2 linked regions of the Homo sapiens genome follow. The protein of the gene in region 1 purifies or fractionates together with the protein of each later gene. This does not show direct contact. Each region holds a gene or a part of one and is shown in the gene's direction. Other genes may lie near its edges. The genes, in order: ZNF431 and TYRP1.

Region 1 (2,823 bases):
CCTCAGCTAACATACTGAACAGACAAAAGGGGCATGCATTTCTCATTAGAAAAAAAATAAGACTATCTAAACAATTCTATTTAACATAGTTCTGGAAGTGCTGGATAAATCTAACAAAATGAAAAAATAAATGGCATCCAAATAGGAAAAGAAGAAGTGAAATTACCTTCACTCATGATATAATTCTCTACCTAGAAAACTTTAAGGATTTTACCAAAAGACTCCTAAGGTTAAAAATGACTTCAGCAAAGTCTCAGGATACAAAATTGATATACAAAAATGAATAGCATTGCCTTACACCAATAACATTCAAGCTGAGAACAAAATCAAGAACAGTTTTCTTTACAATAGCCATAAACAAAAAATAATATACTTAGAAATACATCAAACCAGGGAGGTAAAATATCTCTACAAGAACTAGAAAACATTACTGAAAGTAATCAGAGACAATTCAAATAAAAAAGCTTTCTATGCTCATGGATTTGAAGAATGAATAGAAAATGTCTATGCTGCCTAGAGCAGCCTACAAAATAAGTTTTTGTTTTTTTATCAAAATGTCGATTACTTTTTTTTTTTTTTTGAGACAGTGTTGCTCTGTGGCCTAGGCTGGAGTGCAGTGGTGCGATCTTGGCTCACTGTAACCTCCACCTCCTGGGTTCAAGTGAGTCTCCTACCTCAGCCTCCCAAGTAGCTGGGATTACAGGTGCCCACCAGCACACCTGGCTAATTTTTATGTTTTTAGTAGAGATCGAGTTTTGCTGTGTTGGCCAGGCTGGTCTCAAACTCCCGGCGTCCCAAAGTGCTGGGATTACAGGTGCGACCCACCATGCCTGGCCCAACCCCATATTATTTCTGGTAACAAAGCACAGAAACATGATTTCTCGAATTTTGCTAGGATTTTAATTTACAAAAGAAAGGTGAATGCCATTAAAAGGTGTTTAATACACTCCCACCAGAAACAAGAGGCAAGGCAGGCCCTGGGGGCCTCACAAAGGCGGTCTTATGCAAGGGTGAGAAAGCAGAGTTATCAGGGAGGTGGGACTATTGCTTTATGAACGTGATGATTGGAAGCAAAAACGTGGGGCTTTTTCCTATTGAATACAAAGTAAAATAATGAATGCTGGTGTCAGTGGTTGGGAATAACAACATTTGCAGGCTCATGAGAGCTGCCTGACAAAAAGCGTGTAAACAACAGTGATTGCTCCTGTGGCCCTGTGATTCAGCAGGTTTATGGAGCAGTTAAGAATCGCAGATGTCAAATGGCCAACACAGAATCTAACGACATGCTTAATACAAATTATTATTAGTAGAAATGCTGAATTGCTTCATTTCTGCAATTTCTGCTGCTTCTTAAGATGCTTTTAATGAATAAAATCTGCCTTAAAATTTGATACCTGGTAACTTCTCTCTGTGAGTTTTGAATTGGCTGATGTAACCAAAATGCCAGCTCTTGCCATCTAACTACCATTAAAAGGAACTTCTAAAGCTCCGAAGTGGTCAACAGTTTCACTTCCAACTTTTTTAAAAGATACACAATTTTCTAAAAAATTTTTCTTTATGGGCGATTGAATAGTTGGGCTTTGGCTAATTCCTCATTAGCAATAGAATTATGTATATTTTGCAAACTCTAATACAGAACACTTAATGTATCAGACAACCATGATTATGATGTATATACCTGGTATAAACAATCTTTTTTGCATATTGAATTCTGCATTTTTTTCTTCCTTGATACGTATGAGATTCACCAGTACCAGTTTTTCTCTTGTGGTGGCATATAGTTGATTGTCATTTGCATTATCTATTAAAAACCTGTGGCAGCTCATGGTATTATTGACCATATGTTCTAGTGTCTTCTTGCAGATTTAAATATTTTATTGCAGTGTAAAGTTTAATATTTAGATGTGTGATACATCTTTGGATAATCTGTAATTAAATTGATCTTTTGTAATGGTGATAGTGATTAGCACACACTGAAAATCCAGCAAAGCAATTATTTTTCTCTTTTTAACTGGAAATCATATTCGTAAGTTGTGGTAGATATTATCATCAGTGTATTCATGATTCGATTTATATTTTGTGTTATCTGGTTATAAATTTTATATAGCATTCAATTTGACAAAATATAAATCTATTTGATTTGAATTTAATGGTGTGTGTGTGTGTGTGTGTGTGTGTGTGTACTTCCTTGAACTTTAGGAAATTCTACAAATCTTATACAGATATGAATGTATCAGGCTTATATTTTTTGCAAGGCTATATATACATTTCTTCTGTTTATTAAAATACTGGAATTGGTGTTATGTAGATATAGTTGTAGATATCAGAATAAAAATGGAATGTTGTGAAAATTACAACTTAATAAATATTTATGGCAAATAAATACAAGATAAAAATTATACATCTTTACAAGATAGTTATTTACAATTGCTTAGAGCTTACCTGTCCAGCCAAGGCCTATCTTCTTCAAGACTGTGCTGAGGCCTGGCACGGTGGCTAATGCCTGTAATCCCAGCACTTTGGGAGACCAAGGCAGGTGGATCACCTGAGGTCAGGAGTTCCAGATCAGCCTGGCCAACATGGCGAAACCCAGTCTCTACTAAAATAAATAAATAAATAAATAAATTAGCCAGGCATGGTGGTGTGTGCCTGTAATCCCAGCTACCCAGAAGGCTGAGGCAGGAGAATCACTGGAACCCAGAGGACAGAGGCTGCAGTGAGCCAAGATTGCACCACTGCACTTTAGCCTGGGTGACAGAGCAAGACTATGTCTCAAAAACAATAATAAAAAGATTGTGCTGAAATTGCACCTGCTTGGTTACA
Region 2 (7,909 bases), on another chromosome or scaffold:
TCTCTCTCTCTCTCATTCTGTGTGTGTGTGTGTGTGTGTGTGTGTGTGTGTGTGTGTGTCAGTGGAGAGAGAGAGAGACGAAGAAAAGGGAGGAGTGATAATCCTTCTAAACGTATACAAGTTGCTTGTGAGAAAAATAGCAGTAATCATAACACACCAAGTCCCTTACTGCTGGTAATGCTTTTCATGTGTCTCTCCAGATTGCCTAATTTTAACTTCTTAAATGTCTCATCTCCTCCTCTATACCCTGGAAAATTATAATATGCTGATTCAATTTAAAAAAGTTATTTGAAATGTAGCCAAACTCATTTGATCTTCCTCAATTCATCACTGCATATGGGTTTCATCCCATTTTATTAGTAAATTTGACACTGATTATGATAAATCCATCCAGTGCCACACATCTCCATCTGCAAATTTCAAGGTTTAATTTTAAACTTTTTAGGGTAAGAGGTTTTTAAAATATTTTCAACCTGTAGGATTTCCAAGACCTTATTTCTAAATGTTTCAATATGACCAATCTTATACATGTGATTTTATATTTCTATATCAGATATAAAAAAGATTTAGATTATTTAGGCTTTCAGTTAGTTCTTTTTATACATGAAGCTACTTTTACGAGCAAGATGAAGGGGAAGTGAGATAGTGGCAGTTGCTGTCTTTTGGATGACAGGCCAATTTACTTCTTGCTTCTAAAGGAAGTAGGCTTTACCCTTTAAACCTCCCCCATCATATGTTCTTGCATGTACTGTTTCCTTTCATCAGTAAGTTCTCCTGATCTTCTCTGTCTCTCCCTCTCTCTCTATCTCTCTCTCTGTTTGACTGTTTCTCTGACATTACCCAAAGATAACTGTTTTTTTTTTCTGGTCTCAGAATTATTCGATGTCCTTTAGTAGTGAGGTCAGCTTCCACAAATGCCTAATTAAAAAAAATTTTCCTTAAAATAGGCAAGAGGAGGAGGAGTTGAATTCCAAACACCTGGAGTCTCCTTTGATTAGCAGTATTTAATTTCTGATAGTACCCAATTTATGGCATTTTAGTGAAGACAATTCTAAAAGTTAACAGAGAAGTCAGGCCAATCTTTCCGATAGGATGACACACTCCTTTGTAAATCTTTAAATGCTTTTCATTGCATTATTTGTGAGTAGGGACCAGCAGTGTTCCTAAATAGGAAGTGTGTTTTTTGCCAACAGTAAGTCCCATAGATCTCTGGTTTTCCTGTTTAGTGGAGGGTTACTAAGAGAGAGTACTTAATTTCTCACAGTTGGAAATTTTCCTGGTTTCTCTAGACCATGTAATTCTTCAAAATGTTATAGGGTAGACCAAGTTCTGAATTTTACCTGTGCTTTTGATTAGGCTTCAGTTTGTTTTACAGATTATTGTATTTCTTGTCTCCTTCTGTGCTTTTTCCACAGTGCAGGCAGTAATCACAATATCCTTCATAGAGTGTACTACCTTGCCCTTAAGGATGTTAGAAACGCATGGTATCGATTCCCATTGTGCATTTAGATAATAGCAATACAAGCACAGAATATTATCTTGGCACCATAGAAGCTCTACAATCCCCAAGTGTCAGTAGTACATTTTCTTCAAACGTTAGCAACCTCAATCCCTGGCAAGAAAAAAAACAGATTATGCAATCTATAATGATCTTACTCTTCAGCAAAATTCTATTTTTTTGTGTTCGTTATTAGAAATTTCCACAGACATATTTTAGCAGTCATATTTCTGCCTGCCCAGCTAGAGTAAGCTCAGTGAGGAAGGGGGTCTGTTGCTACTCTTCTTTAATGATGGAAACACTGAGGAGTATATGAGGAATTTTACCCATTAGATGTGTGAGGCTAAGAGATCTTTGATCATGCCACTGCTCTCCAGCCTGGGCGACAGAGTGAGACCCTGTCCCAAAAAAAAAAAAAAATGATATGTCCACTCATTAAAAACTTCTGTCAGACCACTCTTTTTTATAAATTTTTAAATTTTTTAATGATCTAACAAGCTTTATTTTTATCATTGTTAAAAAAATCCTTCTTTTGAGTAACACAATCACAAAGTAAAGAATGTTATCATTGATTTAACCAGTAAAAAAACAATACTTAACAATAAAATTTTTCAAACATGGCTCCAGGCCATCCAGATGACTTAGTTATCCTCCTTTGATGCCCTTCTCTTCTTCGAATGAATCACAATGAGGCAGAAAAATTTTCATGGGTGCAGAGTAGGTGTATATATTTATGGAGTATGTGAGATATTTTGATACAGGCATACAACATGAAATAAGCACATCATGGAGAATGGGGTATTCATACCCTCAAGCATTTATCCTTTGAGTTACAAACAATCCAATAACACTTTTTAAGTTATTTAAAAATATACAGTTATGATTGACTATAGTCACCCTATTGTGCTATCAAACAGTAGGTCTTATTCATTCTTGCTAATTTTTTTGTACCTATTGACTATCCCTACTTCCCTACTCCCCTCAGACACCCACTACCTTTCCCAGCCTCCATTCTTCTACTCTTTATGTCCATAAGTTCAATTGTTTTGAGGTTTAGATTCCACAAATAAGTGAGAATAAGTGATGTTTGTCTTTCTGTGCCTGGCTTATTTCACTTAACAGAATGTCTAGTTCCATCCATGTTGGTGCAAATGACTGGATCTCATTGTTTTACTGCATTTTGCATATGTACCATATTTTCTTAATCCATTCATCTATTGATGAACACTTAGGTTGCTTCCAAATTTTAGCTTTGTAAACAGTGCTGCAATAAACATAGGAGTGCAGATATCTCTTCAATATATTGATTTCCTTTCTTTTGGGTATATATCTAGCAGTGGGATTGCTGGATCATATAGTAGCTCAATTTTTAGTTTTTTGAGGAAACTCCAAACTTTGCTCCATAGTGGTTGTACTAATTTACATTACTACCAACGCTGTATGAGGGTTTCCTTTTCTCCACATCCTTGTCAACATTTCTTATTGCCTGAATTTTGGACATAAGCCATTTTAATTGGGGTAAGAGGGTATCTCACAATAGTTTTGATTTGTACTTCTCTAATGATCAATAATGTTGAGTATCTTTTCATAAGTCTGTTTGCCATTTGTATGTCTTCTTTTGATAAATGTCTGCTCAAATATTTTGCCCATTTTTTTATTGGATTATTAATTTTTTTCTATAGAATTTTTTGAGCTTCTCATATATTCTGGATATTAATCCCTTGTCAAATGGGTAGTTTACAAATATCTTATCCCATTCTGTGGGTTGTCTCTTCACTTCATTGATTGTACTCTTTGCTGTGCAGAAGATTTTTAACTAGATGTGATCCCATTTGTTCATTTTTGCTTTGGCTACCTGTGCTTGTGTGGTATTGCTCAAGAAATCTTTGTCAAGACCAATGTCCTCAAGATTTTCCTCAATGTTTCTTCATTGTAGTTTCATAGTTTGAGGTCTCAGATTTAAATATTTAATCAAATCATTTTTTATTTGATTTTTGTATATGGAACGAGATAGGGACCTAGTTTCATTCTTTTGCATATGGGTATGTAGTTTGCCAGCACCATTTATTAAAAAGACTGTCTTTTCCCCAGTGTATGTTCTTGGTATCTTGGTGAAAAATGTCTTTACTGTAGGTGTGTGATTTTGTTTTTGGGTTCTCCTGTTCCATTGCTCTATGTGTCTGTTTTTAGGCCAGTACCATGCTGTTTTTGCTACTATCACTCCGTAGTATAATTTGAAGTAAAGTAATATGATTCCTCCAGTTTTGTTATTTTTGCTTAGGATAACTTTGCCTCTTCAAGGTTTGGTGTTCCATATAAATTTTAGGATTTTCTTTCTGTTTCTGTGAAGAATGTCTTTGGTATTTTGATAGGAATTGCATTGAATCTGTAGATTGCTTTAGGTAATACGGACTTTTTAACAATCTTGATTCTCCCAATCCATGAACATATAATATTTTTCCATTATTTGGTGTCTTCTTCAATTTCTTTCATCAATGTTTTGTAGTTATCATTATAGAGACCTTTCATTCATTGGTTAATTCCTAGGTATTTAATTTTATGTGTGGCTATTGTAAATGGGATTACTTTTTTATTTCTTTTTCACATTTTTCACTGTTGGTATATGGAAACTTTGCTGATTTTGGTATGCTGATTTTGTATCCTGCAACTTTACTGAATTTGTTTGTCAGCTCTAATAGTTTTTTAGAGGAGTCTTTAGGTTTTATTCAAATATAAGATCTTATCATCAGCAAACAAGGATAATTTGACTTCTTCATTTCCAATTTGGATGCTCTTTATACCTTCTCTTGCCTGGTTGCTCTAGCAAGGTAATATGTTGAATAACAGTTGAATAACAGAATAAAAAAAAATCTCTGCAAAGTAAACAAATCTCACTAGTTTATCTGACTTGTATTCCAAATTAGTGCTTCTGGCCTTTTCTTAAAACTTTAAGCATCACAAGGAAATCAGTTGGAAGGGAATCATGTGCTGATCAAGTCCTTAAAGGGCAGAAATATTCACTGAAGTGAAAAGGATTAGTAAAGGGTGGAAAAAAAGACCAGCCCCCCGCCTAGTTTGGGTGAGCAGATTTGGGATTAATTATCAGGCAGCAATCCACATGCACTTAACAGTTCTGACGTGAGAGGACAAGAAACACAAGCAAATATAAAACATTCAATTCTAAGAGAAGTTCATCAGAGACATCCTTCAGGATTGTGAGGTACTGGAAAGAAGTCCTATGGGGAGTGGGTGGACACGTGCCAAAACTCCATTAGTGTAAGGGACTTTAAATCACAGAAATTAACTTGCTGGAAATCTGTTCCCAATTCTTCCTTCAGCTCCAAGGTTAAATTAAATGTAATTAATGATGGTGACCTGCTAATTCATGCTTTTGATAACTGATATCTAGTATGTATATATATATAAACAAAATGACGAGGACAGGGAATTTAATTATTTGGGTATCACACATGCAGGTGTTATATATGCCAAATTTTAAAGGTAAAATTTGTGTGAAATGTCACACTTTTATTATTTGTGTGAAATGTCATTTTACATATGGGTTCCATTTTGAAAGTGGTTTGGGAAGGGGGCATACCATTTTAAGTACCAAGAAAAACTTGCATAATCTCATTTTACTTTCTCTTTTTCAGCTGGATTTTCCTCTACGTGCTTCAGTCTTCTCTACACAAAGAGCTGCAAACCAGGTCTTTGTTTTGCACTCTTATTTCAAGCAGAATGAGTGCTCCTAAACTCCTCTCTCTGGGCTGTATCTTCTTCCCCTTGCTACTTTTTCAGCAGGCCCGGGCTCAATTCCCAAGACAGTGTGCCACTGTTGAGGCTTTGAGAAGTGGTATGTGTTGCCCAGACCTGTCCCCTGTGTCTGGGCCTGGGACAGACCGCTGTGGCTCATCATCAGGGAGGGGCAGATGTGAGGCAGTGACTGCAGACTCCCGGCCCCACAGCCCTCAGTATCCCCATGATGGCAGAGATGATCGGGAGGTCTGGCCCTTGCGCTTCTTCAATAGGACATGTCACTGCAACGGCAATTTCTCAGGACACAACTGTGGGACGTGCCGTCCTGGCTGGAGAGGAGCTGCCTGTGACCAGAGGGTTCTCATAGGTAAGTGGAGATATGAATGAGTTCATAAGTCCTGCATGAGACTCAAGGCTCTTAATAAAATCTTAAATCATTTGAGCTGGAGGAATACCTGGAAATCATATAGCTCAACCCTCTCTTTTCATAGTTGAGGAAACTGAGGCTTAGAAAGGTTAAGAAACTTGTTTAATGTAAAGGGTTGGAGTTGAAGCTCAGAACTTCTGATCAATATTTTATTCTGAAACATTTATTGAGCAACCACTATATCCTAGGAACTGTGTTAGGTATTATGACTAGTCAATTCAGTAACTCCTTCAGGTAAACATGTTAATTGTCATAGATGAGGTTCAGAAAGTTCAAATCCACACAGGTGATATTTAGTAAACCTGGAATTCATGCTGAGATCTACCTAGCCCTTATATTTTAGTTCTGCAACTACCCCTGCTGACCCTTAAAGAAGTTTCCCACCATGATGATCAAATTCAGCATTTGAGATGAAGAGTTTGGCCTGCAGACTAAATAGCATTAAATAACAAAGCACTAAACAGTAACAGCCAACAATATTTGATTGTGTTCTATGTGCGAGATAGTAGACTAAGGGTTTAAATGAACATGTATTGAGTCCTTACTATGAGTTAGGCCTTGGGCTAATTGCTTTTTATGTGTGTGGTCTTTGAACTTTCAATTCTGTAAAGCAAGTATTATTTTTATCCACATTTTAATGATTAAAAAAAAACTAAGACTTGGAAAAATGTGCCCAAAGTCATAGAATAATTCTCTGGTCTTAACTACTATGTTATATCACCTAATTTTCAAAGATTTATAATGTTAAAAAGACAGAAAATTCCAACAAAAATGCCAACAGTGGGCAGAAATCAACATGACAAGGTCACAGAAACATAAAATCCATAGGTAAGATTAAAGAAAGGTAATATAAATCATGCAGTAAATTGGAGAGAGAAAAGGGAAGAAAGAGAGAGAAAGCAGGCTTGAAGAAAGGGTTTTAGTTAAGGATATTTTTAAAAGTGTAAAATAATTTAAAACACATTTGAACAGATGGATAAATGGGTCGTGGTGTGTTACAAGATGATTATGCTCTTTCTCTACCCATCCCCGCAAGGCAGATGTTTTCATGCTTGAATTTTGTATCCCTAAAGTCAGGAGAAATCTTCTGGACTTAAGTAAAGAAGAAAAGAACCACTTTGTCCGGGCCCTGGATATGGCAAAGCGCACAACTCACCCTTTATTTGTCATTGCCACCAGGAGATCAGAAGAAATACTGGGGCCAGATGGCAACACGCCACAATTTGAGAACATTTCCATTTATAACTACTTTGTTTGGACACACTATTACTCAGTCAAAAAGACTTTCCTTGGGGTAGGACAGGAAAGCTTTGGTGAAGTGGATTTCTCTCATGAGGGACCAGCTTTTCTCACATGGCACAGGTACCACCTCCTGCGTCTGGAGAAAGACATGCAGGTATGTAAGAAGCATTTCAGTTTGCAGACTCTTTACAGACAAGATGCCTTGTTTGTAAGTGATTTTAATTCACTAGTTTTCAGAATCATCAGAACATTTGATGAAAAAGCAATTTTATGTTACTAACCTGTCTTTGGCATTTCGTTTTCTCCTTATTTTGGTTACTTGTTAATTAATCTTTATCTTGGTGAAGTGAAAATAAAGCAAAATCAATAATGAGCAAAATGAGACATTTGCAGGAATGAATTAAAAGTTTAAAAATATTTTGCAGTTTCATTGAAAACATGACTTTCATAAAGCTTGAAACAGAAGAATCTCATTTGCATGTCTTCCTTCTCTACTAAATATAAGCAGATTCCTCCTCCTGGTCAAGTGATGTGGGTTAGAGACTTCTCAATCTTTCCAGTCCTAAATGTATATCTCATCATTCCAGCGATGATTCCCTCCAACATGGTATAGGGTTTAAATCATGAAAAATAATTCCTTTCAATTTAGACTCTCATATTTTCATTGAACTATATTTTTCCACGTTCCCTACCCTTTGAGTCTTACAGAAGAAACCTATTAAAATATCACATCACTATATAAGAGGACAGATATTTTAATTTGCTTGGCTATAGTAATCACTTTACTATGTATATTTATATCAAAGCACCATGTTGTACACCTAAAATATGTAAAATTTGAAAAAAAGTTGAAAAATATCAAAATAATTATATCAGTCAGGCAATATTTTTAGTGAAAAGACATTGGCTTTTTATTTGGCACAAAGTGAACCTCAACTCAAGCAGTTATTTCATGCTTATTTTCTAAGCAGATAAGCTTCAAACAT

The links.
Region 2: the proteins of ZNF431 (region 1) and TYRP1 purify together in Homo sapiens (affinity purification with mass spectrometry; 2 studies listed by BioGRID and IntAct, with this or other methods). This does not show direct contact.

Annotation. Positions count from the first base shown.
Region 1 is NC_000019.10:21,193,909-21,196,731, forward strand, and holds the end of ZNF431 (zinc finger protein 431), read left to right. Parts: 3' UTR 1-2,145; downstream 2,146-2,823. UniProt on the Homo sapiens protein: Sequence-specific DNA binding transcriptional repressor. Represses target gene transcription by recruiting HDAC1 and HDAC2 histone deacetylases. Acts as a specific transcriptional repressor for PTCH1 during embryonic development.
Region 2 is NC_000009.12:12,688,761-12,696,669, forward strand, and holds the start of TYRP1 (5,6-dihydroxyindole-2-carboxylic acid oxidase precursor), read left to right. Parts: upstream 1-4,624; 5' UTR 4,625-4,718; intron 4,719-5,151; 5' UTR 5,152-5,236; coding exon 5,237-5,621; intron 5,622-6,754; coding exon 6,755-7,077; intron 7,078-7,909. UniProt on the Homo sapiens protein: Plays a role in melanin biosynthesis. Catalyzes the oxidation of 5,6-dihydroxyindole-2-carboxylic acid (DHICA) into indole-5,6-quinone-2-carboxylic acid in the presence of bound Cu(2+) ions, but not in the presence of Zn(2+).